Homo sapiens: one gene and its partner. The main gene of each other region encodes a partner of the protein of the gene in region 2 in a complex. Each region holds a gene or a part of one and is shown on either strand. Other genes may lie near its edges.

Region 1 (10,458 bases), on a different chromosome or scaffold from region 2:
GACGTCAGAGCAAGACTCTGTCTCAAAAGAAAAATAAATAAATAAATAAATTCTCTCGGCTTCAGACCTACCTATCTTTGGTGTCTCAAGTTAAACCCAAAGCAGCACCCATCACATCTGCCTTTTCTTTACTTTTGTCTCCTATTGCTTCCAGATACCTTCTTCCTTTTCCTGCAAAGCCCATTCTGCTGGAGTGGAAAAGTCCAATGCCTTGATGCCAGGGTCTTGTTCAGTCACTCAAGATGGAGTGTAGTGGCACAGTCATGGCTCACTGCAGCCTCAACCATATATATATAGTTTAAATAAATCAATAAACCAATAAATTCTCTCTTAATGATGGTTTGAGCCTCACCACTTGATTAGGACAATCAGCATAACCTGTAGAATCTTATTTGGAATTGAATTCTGTATTGTAATTTTGTTCCTGTTCATTTTTAAATTTTATTTTTCTTTCACTGTAAAGATGATACTCTGCTTTAAATGTTAAAAGTGTACAAGCAAAAGGCCGGGCACAGTGGTTCACACCTGTAATCCCAGCACTTTGGGAGGCTGAGGCAGGCAGATCACGAGGTCAGGTGTTCGAGACCAGCCTGACCAACATGAGGAAACCCCGTCTCTACTAAAAATACAAAAGTTAGCCTGGCCTGGTGGCGCACGCCTGTAATCCCAGCTACTCATGAGGCTGAAAGAGGAGAATTGCTTGAACCCCGGTGGCAGAGGCTGGAGTGAGCCAAGATCGCACAACTGCACTCCAGCCTGGGCGCGACATAGCGAGACTCCATCTCAAAAACAAACAAACAAAAAAAAGTGTACAAGTTAAGGAAGCCAGGTACAATGGCTCACACCTGTAATCCCAGTGCTGTGGAGGGCCAAGGTGTGAGAATCACTTGAGTCCACAAAATCGAGAACAGCCTGGGCAACAAAGTGAGACCCTGTCTCTACAAAAAGTACGAAAAGTTAGCCAGGCATGGTGGTCCCAGCTACTCAGGAGGCTGGGGCGAGAGGATCACTTGAGCCCAGGAGTATAAGGCTGTGGTGAGCTATGATAGCACCACTGCACTTCAGCCTAGGTGACAGAGCAATACCCTATTATCAAGGCACTGGACTTTTCCACTCCAGCAGAATTCTAAATTTTATTTAAACTATGTAGTATATATTAGGTGCAAGGCACCAGAGTTCATGTGAAGTGGAAGATATCACCAGAAGGTAGGGCAGATTTTAGAAATAACTAACAGAAGGTACATTAGGTTTTAGAAGGGACACCAAGCATCTTCCCCAGCAATGTTCTAGTCTGAGGAAAAGGAGGAAGGTGTCCTGGTGACCTGTCTCTAAAAACAAAAACAAGGCTGGGCACGGTGGTTCATGCCTGTGATCCCAGCATTTTGGGAGGCCGAGGCGGGCAGACCACCTGAGATTGCGAGTTTGAGACCAGCCTGACCAACACGGAGAAACCCCATCTCTACTAAAAATACAAAATTAGCCGGGCGTGGTGGCACAGGCCGGTAATGCCAGCTACTCAGGAGGCTGAAGCAGAATCGCTTGAACCCAGGGGGCGGAGATTGAGGTAAGCTGAGATTGCAGATCGCGCCATTGCACTCCAGCCTGGGCAACAAGAGCGAAACTCCGTTTCAAAAAAAAAAAAAAAAAAAAAAAAAAAAAAAAAAACAGGCTGGGCGCAGTGGCTCACGCCTGTAATCCTCGCACTTTGGGAGGCCGAAGTGGGCAGATCATCTGAGGTCAGGAGTTCGAGACCAGCCTGACCAACATGGAGAAACCCCGTCTCTACTAAAAATACAAAAAATTAGCCGGGCGTGGCGGCGCATGCCTGTAATCCCAGCTACTCGGGAGGCTGAGGCAGGAGAATTGCTTGAACCTGGGAGGCAGAGGTTGCAGTGAGCCGAGATCATGCTATATGCCACTGCACTCTAGCCTGGGCGACAAGAGCGAAACTCCGTCTCAAAAACAACAACAACAACGACAGCAACCACGGACGGTGGCTCGTGCCTGTAATCCAGCATTTTTTTTTTTTTTTTTTTTTTTGAGACGGAGTCTCGCCCTATTGCCCAGACTGGAGTGCAGAGGCGCAATCTCGGCTTACTGCAACCTCCACCTCCCAGGTTCAAGTGATTCTCCTGCCTCAGTCTCCTGAGTAGCTGGGATTACGGGCACGTGCCACCATGCCTGGCTAATTTTTTTTTTTGTATTTTTAGTAGAGACAGGGTTTCACCATGTTGGTCAGGCTAGTCTCAAACTCCTGACCTCGTGACCCGCCAGTCTCAGCCTCCCAAAGTACTGAGATTACAGGCGTGAGCCACCACACCTGGCCTATCCCAGCACTTTGGGAGGCCGAGGTGGATGGATCACTGAGGTCAGGAGATTGAGACGAGCCTGGCCAACATGGTGAAACTCCATCTCTATTAAAAATACAATAATTAGGCCAGGTGCGGTGGCTCACGCCTGCAATTCCAGCAGTTTGGGAGGCCGAGGTGGGCAGATCATGAGGTCAGGAGATCGAGACCATCTTGGCTAACACGGTGAAACCCTGTCTTTACTAAAAAAATACAAAAAAATTAGCCAGGCGTGGTGGCGGGCGCCTGTAGTCCCAGCTACTCGAGAGGCTGAGGCAGGAGAATGAGGTGAACCTGGGAGGCGGAGCTTGCAGTGAGCTGAGATCACACCACTGCACTCTAGCCTGGGTGACAAGTTCTGTCTCAAAAAAAAAAAAAAAAGGCAGAAAGAACATGGATTCACCTGCTTATACAAGAAAAAAGGAAAAAAAAAAGTGTACGAGTTGCCTTGTTACAATAAAACTAAATGTGTATACACACAAAGGAAATGGAGGACATTCAGGGGCTGGGATGAAGGGTACAGAAGAAAGGCCAGGAGATACGGCCCTTCCATTTGACAGTAAATAGACTAATTAAAAAATATTTATGTAGTATATATTAGGTGCAAGGCACCAGAGTTCATTTGAAGTGGAAGATATCACCAGAAGGTAGGGCAGATTTTAGAAATAACTAACAGAAGGTACATTAGGTTTTAGAAGGGACACCAAGCATCTTCCCCAGCAATGTTCTAGTCTGAGACCATTGTGAGTCTACAAACTGTTTCTATGACAAAGCTGTACATTATTATTATTATTATTATTATTTTATTTTTATTTTTTGAGACAGAGTCTTGCTTTGTCTCCCAGGCTGGAGTGCAGTGAAGCAATCTTGGCTCACTGGAACCTCTGTCTCTTGGGTTCAAACCATTCTCGGGCCTCAGCCTCCCAGGTAGCCAGGATTACAGGCGCATGCTGCCACCACACCTAGCTAATTTTTTGTATTTTTAGTAGAGACAGGGTTTCACCATGCCAGGCTGGTCTCGAACTCCTGACCTGAAGTGATCTGCCTGCCTCAGGCTCCCAAAGTGCTGGGATTATAGGCATGAGCCATCAGGTCTGGCCCATTATTAACATAAATTAAAGTTGGTACTAATAAGTCACAGGTGAGCTACCTATGAGACCTGAAACGTAAAACCCACATAAACAGAGGCACTAGCTGGTTTGGAGCCATGTGCAATTGGAAGTGCGACAGAAAGATAATAGGAGTAACTTTTCACCTCGGTAAACCTGTCCTCCTGGCTTGACTGCTGTTTCCTGGTAACCTAGTAGGGTGACCATTTGTCCTCATCTGTCTGAGATCTTCCTGGTTTATACCTAGAGTCCTGGCACAATTGTTCACAGCAAACCCTTTCTGCTCCCTGTATTCTCAAATATGTCCCAGTTTGGAAGCCAAATTAAATGGTTACCTACCTAGAAATCATTAAAAATAAAACCCCTTCTGGGCACACCTATAATCCCAGTACTTTGGGAGGCCAAGGTGGGCAGATTACCTGAAGTCAGGAGATCGAGACCAGCCTGACCAACATGGTGAAACCCTGTCTCTACTAAAAATATAAAAATTAGCCGGGTGTGGTGGTGCACGCTTGTAGTCCCATCTACTCAGGAGGATGAGGCAGGAGAATCGCTTGAACCCGGGAGGCGGAGGTTACAGTGTGCCGAGATCATGCCACTGTACTCCAGACTGGGCAACAGAGTGACACTCTGTCTCATAAAATAAATAAATAAAAAATAAAATAAAATAGGCCAGGCGTGGTGGCTCATGCCTGTAATCCCAGCACTTTGGGAAGTCGAGGCGAGCGGATCACCTGAGGTCAGGCGTTCGAGACCAGCCTGACCAACATGGCGAAACCCCGTCTCCACTAAAAATACAAAATTAGCCAGGCGTGGTGGCAGGTGCCTGTAATCCTAGTTACTTGGGAGGCTGAGGCAGGAGAATCACTTGAACCCAAGAGGCGGAGGTTACAGTGAGCTGAGATCACGCCACTGCACTCCAGCCTGGGCAACGAGAGCAAAACTCCGTCTCAAAAAAATAAACAAAATAAAAATAAAAATATAATAAAATAAAAACCACTGCCGGGCATGGTTTTTAGTCCAGACGTGGCTCATGCTTATAATCCCAGCACTTTAGGAAGCCGACGTGGGCAGATTGCTTGACCCCAGGATTTGGAGAGCAACCAGCCTGCACAACATGGCAAAACCTTGTCTCTACAAAAAATAGGTGGGCGTGACGGCGTGCACCTGTAATTCCAGCTGCTTAGGAGGCAGAGGCGGGTTGTAGTGAGGCATGATTGTGCCACTGCACTCCAGCCTGGGTGATAGAGTAAGACTCTGTCTCAAAAACAAAAAAAAATCTCCAATTTCTTCTGTCAGCATAACACCTAGTCAATTGTTCATGAGATGTGTCAAGCTCTTGACTCAGGTGTGTCCTTTCATCCATTCATCCATTCATCCATTCATCCGCCTGCCCATTTGTCCAGTCATTCATCAGTCTGTCACTTAATGGGTGTCTACTTGTACTAAGCACTGTACTGGGGATAAAAAGATGAATTACTCCCTCCCAGCCCTTGAAGGGCTCACAGTAGGGACACAAACAATTATTATATATAATAGAATCTGAGGGATTATGAAAATCCAGAGGAAAGAATGACTTTTTTTCTTCTTCTTTTTTTTTGAGACGGAGTTACGCTCTTTGTTGCCCAGGCTGGAGCGCAGTGTTGCGATCTCAGCTCACTGCAACCTCCACCTCCTGGGTTTGAGCAGTTCTCCTGCCTCAGCCTCCCGAGTAGCTGGGATTACAGGCATTCACCACCACGCCTGGCTAATTTTTTGTATTTTTAGTGGAGACGGGGTTTTGCCATGTTGGCCAGGCTGGTCTTGAAATCCTGATCTCAGGTGATCTGCCTGCCTCGGCCTCCCAAAGTGCTGGGATTACAGGAGTGAGCCACCACACCTGGCCAAGAATGACTACTTCTAAAGCAGTCAGGAAAGGCTTCACCAAGAATATATTCTGGATCCTTCTTTTAATTTTTTTTTTTTTTTTTTTTGAGACAGAGTTTCACTCTTGTTGCCCAGGATGGAGTGCAACGGCACGATCTCAGCTCACCGCAACCTCCACCTCCCAGGTTCAAGCAATTCTCCTGCCTCAGCCTCCCGAGTAGCTGGGATTACAGGCATGCACCACCATGCCTGGCTAATTTTGTATTTTTAGTAGAGACAGGGTTTTTCCATGTTGGTCAGGCTGGTCTCGAACTCCCCACCTCAGGTGATCCGCCCACCTTGGCCTCCCAAAGTGCTAGGATTACAGGCATGAGCCACCGCATCTGGCCCTTCTTTTTAATTTTTATTTATTTATTTAGACAGGGTCTCACTCTGTTGCCTTGGCTGGAGTGCAGTGGCACAATCATAGCTCACTGCAGCCTCAACCTCTAGGGCTCAAGCGATCCTTCCACCTCAGCCTTCTATGCCACCATGCCTAATTTTAAAAAAATTTTTTGTAGAGGTGGGGTCTCATTATGTTGCCCAGACTGATCTTGAACTCCTGGGCTCAAGCAATCCTCTTGCCTCAACCTCCCAAAGTGCTAGGATCGCAGATGTGAGCCACCACACTGGGCTCTGGTACGTTCTTAAAGAAAATTTTGCCACAGGGAAGAGTGTGTTAAGGGGAAAGTACTCCAGGCAGAAGAGTTATGTGCAAAGACCTTGTCACATGAAAGAAACACCATGTCCAGGAAACAAAGAGTTCTATGAAGCTGAAGTGCCAGGTAAAGGGAGAGAACAGAAGCAGGTAGCACCGCAGTAAAAGAGGCTGGGCTGGATTCATCCCGCAAAGGAGTCTGGGTTTATCCTGTACTCAGGAGGAAGACAGGGAGGGATTTTACTTTGGGCCTGAGGGCCATCCTTTGGAAGACCAGGCTGTACGTTTTCAAGAGGGGTCAAAAACATGCAGGAAACAGAGAAGCCTTTTTATATAACATCGGTGGAGGCAAACCATGAGAAGAATTTAATTTCCAACAAAGAGAAAAAACCTAACATATTTAATTTTTTTTTAACTTGGGAGTACCCCTGCACTTTCCACACATCACAAATTGACAGCACTTGAGTGGCAATACTGAATACTGCTTGAGGGAAGCTGATATTCAGAAGTCTTGTTAACCTATTTGCTAAGAGTATGATAATTTTTCTTCAGTTTGTTTAGACATACATCCACCCCATCTCTCTTTCTAAATAAGCTATTCGGCAATCTGGGAGAAAGGAAATCTTGTATCTTGGGGAAAAAAACCACTATGCAGTCAACTGAATTTCCATGAGGTTTTGGCAAACCATTTGCCAGAATGTTACTTAATTCTGAACTCAAATCCTCAAATCATACCTCCCATAACTCATTTCTCTTAAGACTCTGTTCCAATTTTTTTTTTTTTTTTAGAGACAGGGTCTTACTCTGTCACCCAGGCTGGAGAATAGTGGCACGATCATGGCTCACTGCAGCCTCAACCTTCTGGGCTCAAGTGATCCTCCTGCCTTAGCCTCCCAGGTAGCTGGGACCACAGACAAGCTCCACTGGCCCAGCTAATTTTTGCGTATATATATTTTGTAGAGAAAAAAAGTGTTGCCCAGGCTGATCTCAAACTCCTGGGCTCTAGTGATCCACCCACCTCGACCTCCCAAAGTGCTGGGATTACAGGCGTTGAGCCACCATACCTGGCCTCCAATTCTACTTTTAATCCTGCATTTCAAAATTTACTTACTATTTCAAAATTTTTGGCACTCTGTGGGAACGCAACAAATACGTGCAGAATATAGTAAGTGATTTAGTTTAGTTATTGTTCCTCTGGAAAAAACTGGCTTGCAGTAAATGACATTATTTTTCCCATACTGTTAAGGTGATGCTCACTGCAGAACTCTCTAAACAGATCTGCAGACTCTTTGGCCTGTTTCTAACACTACCGGTGTTTCCCAGAGGAGGATGCTGTCCCAACGTGGATTTCGGCTGCTGTTTTTTTCAGGCCCCAACACCACCCTCCTCAACCCCACAGCCTAGTGATTAAATGTCAGTGGCAGATGGAGAAAGCACTCCCACGTGTGCCACTCTGACAAATACTTTATTCCAACTAAATGTATAGGCTCTCACTGTGACATAAAAAGGGAAGAGGAAACAGAAAATTCAAGTGAGCTAAAGATGTATGAATTACAGAGTGAGATCAACTGCTAGACGACACAGGGAGGGAGTTAGCAGCGTCTCCACTGAAAGACAAATTCACAGACATCCTGTTTATTTCCGAAAGAGAAACATCATAGAGCTATTCTTGGGATGTTCAGGAAAAGATTAAAATAAATGCCTATTATCTATTGTATTTCGAGATAAACTTTATAGATTTAGAGCAGGACACACATTTCTGGACTTGAGAACGCTGTATCTGGCTTGGAATAAAAGCCCACATTTCATCTAGAGGTAGAATGTATGTCATTCTAATCTCCCTCAATCCTTTCTTCTCCAATTTCTTTATTGCCCCACTTACAAGATAGTGCACTATTATTCCAAAGCTGATACCTTCCAAATTCCTTTATAGTAGAGGTCTTGGCTATCATAACCATGATGGAACGAATGACCGTCCTACAGCTGGCTGCAAAATATAAGACTGCTATAAATAAATCCCTGATGCCTGAAAAGTAATTCATTCAACAAAGGAAGATAGGTATGACTTTGGCCTACTCTTCATTAGAACGCTTATTTTTATTTATTTATTTATTTATTTATAAAGAGGGCAAAGCAGACTTTATTTGAGGGGCACCACAGCAATAGGTATAGCAACAACTGCAACAGGGTTTTGTAGTCAGGGAGGGAGATCAGACTCAACTCCCTAAAATGCTAATTTTAACAATGGGACACTTCATCTGAACTGTGGTTCTTAATGGTTCAGATAAAGATGACACAACCCACTATTGGCTTAAACTTCTCCCAACTCTGGCTACAGAATCCAGGTAAAGATTTCTGCCCCCTCAGAGTAATAGGCATGTCCAAAATCACCTGGATTAGGGCACTTAATACACTGGGAAGGGACGATAACAACTAAAGATGACCACTATCCATGCCTCCTCTAAAAGTTTTTTCATATATTTTTTCATATCACCAAAACAAATACTAACTTGGATCAACTAATTTATATAATGGAATCTCGTGTGAGCGTACAAAATTCCATACTGATTATTTGGTTTAAGCCTGCATTATCATAAAGGCTTTACAGTCTTTAAACTGAAATTAAGCTCAAATTAAGAAATGCTAGTCTTAAAACAATGGAAGGGGGGGGCCGTTTTGTGTGGAGGGAGGGAGACAGACATACCCCTACACCCACCCACAACTACTGATATTGACATTGGAAATTAACTTGAAAATTTATGCCTGTAGTCCCAGCTACTCAGGAGGCTGAGGTGGGAGGAGCACTTAAGTCCAGGAGTTGGGAGATGACAGTGAGCTTTGACTGTGACACTGCACTCCAACCCGGGTGACAGGGCAAGATCCCATCTCTCAAAAAAAAAAAAAAAAAATGCTTTAACTCCACGTCTGTACCAGAAGACCACAGCAGGAGAGGAAAACCTTATTTCAGTCTGGGTAAGAGTTCTATTAAACACAAAATAAAACAAACTAGCCTCTGTTTCTGGAGGTCTTCATTAGTAGTTTCTACAAAACAGTATCCAAATTAGCAAAGATTCTGTTAACTACCTGGAAAAAGCAGGTACCAAGAAAGAATGTTTCACTACAATGGAAAAAAACAGTCTAGTAAGTAAACCAATCTGACTATAAACGCTACAAAAGAGGGATTCTAGCATTAGTAACTTTGCCAACAATACTCTGATATGATTAAAAAACAAAACAATAACAAAAACAAAAAACCTCATCTTTAAATTTGTCCCATTCATCCAGAGAAGCAAAATCAAGGAAACTAGAGGGGGTAAAGTCTTGCAACAGATACACAGCTGCACTGCCAACAGGTCACAAGACCCATGCTGCCTAGGGCATTGACTGTTATGCCATGAGGACAGACATCACACAAACACCAGTAATTAAAGGGTTACGGTGCCAAAGGGTTCAGAGCTCCACTTCCATTCAGTATCAGAACATAAGAAAAAGGGAAAAACAGAAAATGAGCCCAAATAAAATATAAAATAAAATATAGATACCAGGAGCTTCCTCAAAATATGTGGGTTGTATTAATAACGTGTTTGGCTCTGTTACGGGCACCATCCATCAGAGGACTGGAAATAGGGAAAGTCACCTTAGTCTTCCTCAAGGAAAAAAGATTATTTAACTTGGTTCACGGTGTACATTCATAATTTTAACTGTCATGTATTTATTGAATGAAAAACATTTGAGAACATCATGTGCAACAAAAACATGATTTCACAGAAATTGTCCAAACTAAAAGAGTATAAAAATAGAAGCGCTTTTTATACAATTATTTACTTATTATTATTATTGAGATAGGGTCTCCATCTGTCACCCAGGCCGGAGTGCAGTGGCGCAATCATAGAGTAGCCTCTAAGTCCTGGGCTCAAGCGATCCTCCTGCCTCAGCCTCCAGAGTCGTTGGGATCACAGGCTCGAGCCTCCACACCCGACTAACTTTTAAAAACTTTTTGTAGAGATGAGGCCTCGCTGTGTTTCCCAGCCTGATCTCGAAATCCTGGCCTCAATCGATCCTCCAACCATGGCCTCCCAAAGCGCTGGGATTACAGGCGCGAGCCATGGTGCCCGGCCGCTTTTACACAATTGAATAACATTAAAATAGGTGGCAGAAGACAGACAGAAAGTCGATTCGTGGTTGCCAGGCGTCGTGAATACCGGGGAACGCGGAGTGCCTATTAATGGGTAAGGGTTTCGTTTTGGAATCAGACAGCGGCGATGGCTGCACAACTTTGTGAATTTTCTAAGAATCACTGAACTGTGCACCTTAAAGGAAGAACTGTGTGGTAATTACATCGGCGGTACGCGGGCAGCGCGTCAATCAAGCCGGCGACGGTGAATGCAGTTCGGGAGAGCTGATACCCCTCGGGGAGGCGGCTCCGGGAGCCTGCGGA
Region 2 (8,905 bases):
GCTCAAAGGCACAGCTGGCATGTGCCATCCCAGTCCAGTGGGCAGATGGTACATCTGACCTCCTGCCCTTGGCCCTGCAGCCCCTAGCCCAGGAGGAGGGGATGTGTCTGGTCAGCATGGGGGCTACGAGATCCCGGCCCGGCTCCGCACCCTGCACAACCTGGTGATCCAATACGCCTCACAGGGCCGCTACGAGGTAGCTGTGCCACTCTGCAAGCAGGCACTCGAAGACCTGGAGAAGACGTCAGGCCACGACCACCCTGACGTTGCCACCATGCTGAACATCCTGGCACTGGTCTATCGGTGAGGACTCTCTGGGGGTGCCCAAATTCTTCTGGAAGGCTCCAGCCCTGGATCACTAACCCTTGGTGCCTGCTGTGGGCCAGGACTCGTGGCCCACCTGCGTGGAGCTGGGCTACAGATGCAAGTAAAACTGTCTAGTGTAAGAGAGAGGCTTGGCCAGAACTGGGGAGGGACTGCACATGAGGACTCCAGGGGTCCTGGGGAGTCCACACAGCTTCTCCAGGCACCAAGGCTGGAGGAGGGGCTTTGCCAGAAAGTGAGTTTGCCCAAACACAAGAGGGCTAGAAAAGGTTCCCATGGCAAAAAGCCAGCATGAGCAAAGGCACTGGGACCTGGAGAGCAGGACACGCTAAAGGGGCAGCAGGAGAGCCATGTGGCGCCCAGGAATGCTAGGCACCAGGCAGTCGGTGGGACCCCAGCACTGCGCACCCCAGCCAATTGTGAGAAAACTGCCTACAGCCCTTGGAGCTTGGAGAGCAGGAGCTGAGCAGGTCTCCCCACACTCTGGGTCTCACTCTGTCATACACACTCAGTGAGTACAGGAGTGACCACAGGGATTGCAGACCATTGGGGAGGGCCTTGAGCTGGAGGACAGCCCTGACCATGCTCCTACCTGCTCCCAGGGATCAGAACAAGTACAAGGAGGCTGCCCACCTGCTCAATGATGCTCTGGCCATCCGGGAGAAAACACTGGGCAAGGACCACCCAGCCGTGAGTGAGGGTTGGGTGGGAGGTGGGGGCTGTGCCCCATCCCCTGCAGGTCCCAGAGTCCTGCAGGGCCTGAGTCAAGAAGCTTCCGTTCTCCCACCTCCAGGTGGCTGCGACACTAAACAACCTGGCAGTCCTGTATGGCAAGAGGGGCAAGTACAAGGAGGCTGAGCCATTGTGCAAGCGGGCACTGGAGATCCGGGAGAAGGTGGGAACAGGCAGGGCTGGGCAGGCTGGGGGTCTGGGAGGCAGGGGCCCGGGCAGCCCTGAGCCCAACCCCTGGCTCCCTCTCCCATCCCAGGTCCTGGGCAAGTTTCACCCAGATGTGGCCAAGCAGCTCAGCAACCTGGCCCTGCTGTGCCAGAACCAGGGCAAAGCTGAGGAGGTGGAATATTACTATCGGCGGGCACTGGAGATCTATGCTACACGCCTCGGGCCCGATGACCCCAATGTGGCCAAGACCAAGAACAACCTGGTACCTTGGGGCTGAGAGGAGCTGGAGGATGGGAAGGAGGGAGGCAGGGATGAGGTTGGGGAAGAAGGAGAGAAAAAGGCTTGGCTGCATGCATCCCGCTCACTCTCTGGGTCTCCCGCTTCCAGGCTTCCTGCTACCTGAAGCAGGGCAAGTACCAGGATGCGGAGACCTTGTACAAGGAGATCCTCACCCGCGCTCATGAGAAAGAGTTTGGCTCTGTCAATGGTGAGTGCGTGGTCACCAGGTGCCTCTAGCCCATCCATCCCAGGCCCACTCTGCCATCAGCACCCAGGACAAATCCCTCAGCAGGGCAGGCCCTCAGGCTTTGGCCTGGCTGGTCACCAGCCTCACCCTCAGATGGTGCCCAGCCACCTGTGCTCACGTTTGCACACATGAGCACACACCCAACTCACGCAGCCCCCTTGGCCTGCTAGGGCCTCACACGCCTTTGCATCCCCCTTCTCCACTGGCGATTCTTGCTCACCTTGAGGGCCTGCCCCAGTGTCTCCCACTCTGGGAAACCACCTCTGGCCCCGGATGGTCAGTCATCTGCTCCTGAGTCCCTCGGAGCCTGGCCCATCATTCAGGCCTAGCACATGTCTTGGGCTGTGGCCTGAGGTGCAAGGGTCTGTTCTGCTCATCTCTGTCCAGAAGAGGGTCAGCAGTGTTTTGGGTCTTACTCTTGTTCATGCATTCAACGAAGCCCAACCGTGGTCTCCCCTCCCCTGACCCCAGTCCTGTGTCCAGCCCAACCAGGTGAGACCTATATGGTAGGCTGGTGACAGTCCCCTTTCTCTCCCCAGGGGACAACAAGCCCATCTGGATGCACGCAGAGGAGCGGGAGGAAAGCAAGGTAGCTCTGTGGGGCAGGCTGGGCGGTTGTCAGGGGAGGCTGGGATGTGCAGAGGGGGGCCTGCTCTCACTTCTTGTGACCATTCTTTCCTCCAGGATAAGCGCCGGGACAGCGCCCCCTATGGGGAATACGGCAGCTGGTACAAGGCCTGTAAAGTAGACAGGTGAGTGGGGCGGGGCTGGGCTGGGGAGCAGGGCACGGCAGGGCGGGCTCCACATTCCATACTCTCACCCCCAACACACCCCTCCTCTGCTGCTCATCTGGCAAGGCCCAACTCACAGGTCACCTGTCCCAAGAAGGCTCTGTCTCCCAATTCTCAGCCTAATTCTCTGGCTCTGGGTCTCCCAGCTTTTGGTCCTGGTGACAACATCCCATGAGGGCCCTGGGGCCAGGTCCCCAGCCCTGGGGTGATTTCCCCAGGACAGAAGAGGCTGGGTGGGCCCAGCACAGGGCTTGACATGGGAAGGAATGGATTCTGGCTACCCCGGAGGTCCATGCTTCCTCAGGGCCCACTGTGGGCTGGGTGCCAGGATGGGCCCTGGGTCTGGGGGAACATGGAGTTTGAGACTGTCCCATCCACAGCCCCACAGTCAACACCACCCTGCGCAGCTTGGGGGCCCTATACCGGCGCCAGGGCAAGCTGGAAGCCGCGCACACACTAGAGGACTGTGCCAGCCGTAACCGCAAGCAGGTGGGGCTCCATGCAGGAGGGGGTGGGCAGACACCTGTGTGGCCCTGGGTGTGGTCCATTCACTGCCTGATGCCCCTGCCCCTCCCTCAGGGTTTGGACCCCGCAAGCCAGACCAAGGTGGTAGAACTGCTGAAAGATGGCAGTGGCAGGCGGGGAGACCGCCGCAGCAGCCGAGACATGGCTGGGGGTGCCGGGCCTCGGTCTGAGTCTGACCTCGAGGACGTGGGACCTACAGCTGAGTGGAATGGGGTGAGTCCGGGGCCTGGGCCGGGTCGGGCTGGGAGCCTAGGTGGCCAGCGGGGCCTAGAGGCAAGCCTGTCCACCTGCAGGATGGCAGTGGCTCCTTGAGGCGCAGCGGTTCCTTTGGGAAACTCCGGGATGCCCTGAGGCGCAGCAGTGAGATGCTGGTAAAGAAGCTGCAGGGGGGCACCCCCCAGGAGCCCCCTAACCCCAGGTGAGCCCCCCACCAAGGTGAGCCTCAAGAACCACCCAGCAACCCCGGATGAGCTCCTGACCCAGAGTGTGCCCCACTGACCCCAGGCAACCTCCCCATCCCTCTCAGGCTCCACCACCCACCAGTCTGTTCCCTCCCCAGCCCCACCCTTCTCCCTGCCCCCATCTCCCGTGAGTTCCTCCTTGGGCAAATCCCAGGCTGTCCTTTTCCCTCAGGATGAAGCGGGCCAGTTCCCTCAACTTCCTCAACAAGAGCGTGGAAGAGCCGACCCAGGTAGGGGCAGGCGGGTGTCTGGGCACTGGGCAGCTGCGGCCGGGGCTGCATGCGTGCTGCCAAGCTTCCCTCCAGCATGCCTCTTCATCCAGCAACAGTTCCTGGCTCTGTCTCAGGCCTACTTTGGGCTGGACAACGGGGAGACACGAGGGGAACCCAGCCTCTCCTGGGGGTGGACGTGTAAACGGCCAGTGCTAACACCGTCACTGTGGAGATGGACGGGAGTGTCAGGGCACCAGGGTGTGGCCTTGGGTCAGAACTGCCATTGCCTCTGCCCAGCTCAGGGATTCCGGCTGCCTCTGCCAGGTCAGACCCCTTCAGGCCAGGGAGGCACAGACTGGCAGCAGCACAGGGCTGAGCCACCTGCCCCCTCTGCCCACAGCCTGGAGGCACAGGTCTCTCTGACAGCCGCACTCTCAGCTCCAGCTCCATGGACCTCTCCCGACGAAGCTCCCTGGTGGGCTAATGCTGAAGGGGCAGCCAGTCACCAGAGCGCCCACCTGGCACACCCCCCTCACCCCAGCCCTGCGCATGGGCCTGCTGCTTGTCCCGCCTGTCTCTCCCACAGCCCCTGTCTTTTCTGTTCAATCTCAGGGTAACCTTCTCCCTTGTCATCTCAGCCTGAGCCCTGGAGGCTGGGCCTGCCCACTCCAGCTCCATCCCTTATTTATTCCTTCCAGCAGGGCCCTCTTCCCTAGGTTCGGGCCAGCAGGAGGTGCCGGCTGGAGTCTCCACCATAGACTCAGTGGCCTGGCCTCCCCAGACCCCAGAGCCAAGAACACTAAGCACTCGCCGGCCCTTCGGCACCCTCGCCCTCCCTCCCGACTCAACCCGGCCGTTGCTTCTGTATATAGAGAAATAAGTTATTGGCCGCGCGCCTCCCTTCAGTCCACGGTACTACCCGGGCCTCCCCTCGTCCCTCTTCTAGTGGTACCGCCCAGGCCTTAATCACCCCCATTCCGTGCGGTGGTATCTCCCAGGCTCTACATTCTCGGGAGCGGCGCCTCCCAAGGGGGTCCTGGGACCTTCTCGCGCTCCTCCTGGCCTCTGAGGGATGCGTCCTACCCGCGCCATCGCCCCGTGGCCCAGGACGGGGACCTCCCCTTAGTCCGTCCTCCCACCGCCGGGCCCTGCCCCGCATCCCGGCCTTATGCACTGCCCCTCCCACCCGGCCCCGCCCAGGCACGGCCGACCCCGCCCCGGGCACCGCCCACCGAGCCATCCTGCCTCGCCTCCCCCCACGCCTGCAGCTTCTCGCGAGGGGCGGCGACGGTCCCCTGGTGGCAGGAGGGGCTCCCCCTGTTGCGGGTGAGGCGGCTGCTCTCATATTTTCAGATGTTGCTGTAGAAATAAAGACGGTTTAAATCTGAGCTGGGCTTGTTTTGAGACGGAGGTCGGGGGCCCCCAGCGTCTCTAGACTGGGGTGGAGCCGGGAAGGGTCGTGCGTGAGTGGGGGACAGTGTGTCTCGCTCAACCGCTGTCCGCGCAGCTGGGCCCAGATATTGTGCCCCACCCCGGAATTGCGTGAGGGGCCCACAAGTCAGGCTTTCCCTAAAACACTCACTTGTGGGGTTCTGGAGACCGCGGGCTCTTATGAGCTCTGCTCCTCACAAAGTTTTTGACCTTGAGTGAGTTTCCCGAGACTCAGTTTTTTCATCTATGAAATGCGGGTGATGACGCGCGGCTGCGAGTTAGGACTGCCCAGTACACGAAGAACCCTGGACAAATGTACTTTTATTAGTCTTACTAGAACCCACATTCTCATTTAATGTTCACAACGTGGGTATTGGGAGGGCAAGGATGACTACCTCCGTCAGACAGATGTGAAACGTGCCAAGCCCAGCCCTAAATTGAGCTTTCTAAACACCGAGTCGCGGTCAGGCTTTCCAGCACTGTCCTCAAGCCTGAGTGCGTCCGGAGTGCAAACTACAAGCCCCAGAAGGCAATGCGCCAGCAGTGATGGGAGTGGGCGCGGAGGCGCGGGCTCCCCGACTACGCCTGCGCAGCGGGGCTGAGTTGGAGAACGTCTTAGACTACAAGTTCCGGGAATCAGCGCGGCGAGGCCTGAGAAGAAGACGTTTGCGCCTGCGCGTCGCGGGCGGGGCCTCTGGGGCGGAGCGGCCACCATCTTGGAACGGGAGGCGGAGCAGAGTCGACTGGGAGCGACCGAGCGGGCCGCCGCCGCCGCCATGAACCCCGAATAGTGAGTGAGCCCCGCCCGCGCCGTCCAGCGCAGCCTCGATCCCGAATACAGGGCTGTACGCTTACCGGGGTTGTCTGGCCCGGGTCAGGACTGTGCGGCGCCCCCACATCCGGGTCCCTCTTCCGCTGACCCCCCCCCACATCCGGGTTCTGCCCCTCCCCCCAGGGGCCCCAGGACCCCGGCTCAAAACCCCGAGCCCTCGCACCCGGGGCCCAGACGTGGCGACCCCCAGGGGCAGCTCTTGGAGCTCGAGACATCGGTCCTACCAGGCCTTATCGGTCAGATGACCCCGCAGTCCCGGTCACTTCAGGCCTCAGTTTCCCCACCTGCTGCTTGACAACTGTCCCGGAGTTTTGGAGCCCGTCTTGATAGTTTCTGGTCTCGGGTTCAGGCTTGGGCCCTTTAGGTCGGGCAGTGAATCCCTCTACCCTTCTCTTTCTCCTGAAGCCCGGCTCCTGGGGCCGGCCCAGAAGCTAGCCAACTACGCGGGAGGCCCCGAAGCGCCGCTTGGGTCGCGTCTCCCGCAGGTCCTCTCTTCCGGGGCTGCCTCCTACCCTTTGCCTGGGTCGCGCTGTCCTGTCGCTCCCGCCGGTCCGTCCTTTCCCGCCCTCTCCTCGCTTTTGCTCAGGCCCCCAACGCCACCGTCACACCCCTTCCCTTGGCTGTCACACTGCCTGTGAAGTTTAGATGAATATGGAATTTGCTCTCCCCCTTCCTGTGGGATTCTCTGGTCCTCAAACTCTCCTCACTCTTGGTCACTCCCCCTGCGGGTAGGTGGCCCACATCTCATGCCCAGGACTAATAGTTTTCCCCAAGTATCAGTTATCTTCTTCCTTTTCTGCCACTTCCTTTTTCTACTCCACATCCAGGTCTCAGATTTCCTTGGGGAAGGGTGAAGCTCTGAGCTGGATTGGGAGGGGAACAGAGAAGGGAACCAGCAGGCTCTCGAAGGGACTTTGGAGTCTGAGAAACCTGGTTTGAGTCTTAAAGCGATAAACTGTGTAAGTTAGGGCAAGTCACTTCCCTTCTCTGGCCTCTGGTTTCCTCATTAGTTGACAATGACAAAACTGACTTCATTGAACTGTTGTGAAGATTAAATGAGATGATGCATTTAAAGTACTTCACACAGGGTCCGTCCACAGGTTGGAACTCAAGTATATTAAATGTGATTACCTTTTGCCTTTTTTTTTTTTTATTTTGAGACAGGGTCTCTCTCTGTCACCCAGGCTGGAGTGCAGTGGCGTGACGATGGCTCACTGCAGTCTCCAACTCTTGGGCTGAAGCAGTCCTCCTGCCTTGTCCTCCTGAGTAGCTGGGAATACAGAGGCACACCACCACACCTGGCACATTTTTTAATTTTTTGTAAAGACAGGGTCTCGATATGTTTCCCAGCCTGATCTCAAACTCCTGGGCTTAAATGATTCTCGTGCCTCGGGCTTCCAAAGTGTTGGGATTACAGGTGTCAGTCACTGCACCCAGCCTTAAGTGCAATTTTCACTGCAACTTGACCACCTCTTCCTGGTGACTTCATAACAGGTTTTTGTTGTTGTTGTTGTTGTTGTTGTTGTTGTTGTTGTTGTTGTTGTCTCCAAAGAGATGGGGTTAGCCGGGTGCGGTGGCTCAGGCCTGTAATCCCAGGACTTTGGGAGGCCGAGGTGGGTGGATCACGAGGTCAGGAGATCGAGACCATCCTGGCCAACATGGTGAAATCCCGTCTCTACTAAAAATACAAAAATTAGCTAGTCATGGTGGCGCATGCCTGTAATCCCAGCCACTCTGGAGGGTGAGACAGGAGAATCACTTGAACCAGGGAGTCGGACGTTGCAGTGAGCCGAGATCGTGCCACTGCACTCCAGCCTGGTGAGAGAGCGAGACTCTGTCTCGAAAAAACAAAAGAAAAGAGAGACGGGGTTGTGCTGCATCACCCAGGCTGGTCATACACTCCTAGGCTCCAAGGATCCTCCTCCTGTTTCAGCCTCCCCAGTAGCTGGAACCACAGGCACACGCCACAGCACCCAGCCATCAGTCTCTCTACGTGGGTTTTCAACTTAATAGGTTCTAGGCTGGGCCCTGGCTTCTACTTCTGGGGCCTTCTCTGCCAAGCTAGGCACACGCAGGGCATGTACTGGGGATTCCCTAAATAGCTCCTACTGGACCAAACCATGAAGTTTCAGAAATCAGGTTAGGATACCCAGCTCTGTTGCCTTGGCAGGTCACGTGTCTTGATTTCTTTCTCCATAAAGTGAGAATTTAGACTCAGCAAGCTGAGAGCCCTTTGGGCTAGCTGTTTGTGGAGGGAGGCATCAGCCCTCCCTGACCGGGACTGTTGGGAAGATCTGGTGAGCACCATAGTATTCTAAACCAAGGGATGGCCAGGCGCAGTGGCTCACCCCTGTAATCCCAGCACTTTCAGAGGCCAAGGCAGGTGAATCAATTGAACCCGGGAGTTTGAGACCAGCCTGGGCAACATAGTGAGACCCCATCTCTACAAAAAATGAAAAGATTAGCCAGGGGCCGGGTGTGGTGGCTCACACCTGTAATCCCAGCACTTTGGGAGGCCAAGGCAGGTGGATCACCTGAGGTCAGGAGTTCGAGACCAGCCTGGCCAACATGGTGAAACCCTGTCTCTACTAAAAATACAAAACTTAGACAAGCATGGTGGCAGGTGCCTGTAATCCCAGCTACTCGGGAGGCCGAGGCAGGAGAATTGCTTGAACCCGGCAGACAGAGGTTGCAGTGAGCCAAGATCGCGCCATTGCACTCCAGCCTGGGCAACAAGAGCAAAACTCAGTCTCAAAAAAAAAAAAAAAAAAAAAAAAAATTAGCTAGAAGTGGTGGTGGTGGTGGACACCTGAAGTCCCAGCTACGCAGGAAGCTGAGGTGGGAAGATCACTTTGAGCCCGCAAGGTAGAGGCTGCAATGAGCCGTGATCACTTCAGTGCACT

The links.
Region 1: the proteins of RAB1B (region 2) and TBC1D20 are in contact, whole or in part, in a crystal structure (PDB 4HLQ), measured with the Homo sapiens proteins. Residues at the interface, in NP_112243.1 of Homo sapiens: Ser17, Gly18, Ser36, Tyr37, Ile38, Ser39, Thr40, Ile41, Gly42, Val43, Asp44, Phe45, Gln60, Trp62, Ala65, Gly66, Gln67, Arg69, Phe70, Thr72, Ile73, Tyr77, Glu94; in NP_653229.1 of Homo sapiens: Gln97, Gln98, Leu101, Asp102, Arg104, Arg105, Leu107, Arg108, His141, Tyr142, Tyr143, Gln144, Gly145, His147, Asp148, Phe177, Met178, Asp179, Pro180, Thr181, Met182, Lys186, Val212, Ile215, Leu218, Ser219, Thr223, His227, Met272, Ala273.

What each region holds. Positions count from the first base shown.
Region 1 is NC_000020.11:451,524-461,981, forward strand, and holds part of TBC1D20 (TBC1 domain family member 20), read right to left. Parts: intron 1-10,458. UniProt on the Homo sapiens protein: GTPase-activating protein (GAP) specific for Rab1 and Rab2 small GTPase families for which it can accelerate the intrinsic GTP hydrolysis rate by more than five orders of magnitude. Also shows GAP activity for RAB18 GTPase.
Region 2 is NC_000011.10:66,262,734-66,271,638, forward strand, and holds the start of RAB1B (ras-related protein Rab-1B), read left to right. Parts: upstream 1-5,905; 5' UTR 5,906-5,946; coding exon 5,947-5,960; intron 5,961-8,905. Other genes in the region: KLC2 (kinesin light chain 2), read left to right, coding at 81-303, 927-1,014, 1,118-1,219, 1,313-1,486, 1,612-1,711, 2,290-2,339, 2,435-2,502, 2,922-3,030 and 4 more. UniProt on the Homo sapiens protein: The small GTPases Rab are key regulators of intracellular membrane trafficking, from the formation of transport vesicles to their fusion with membranes.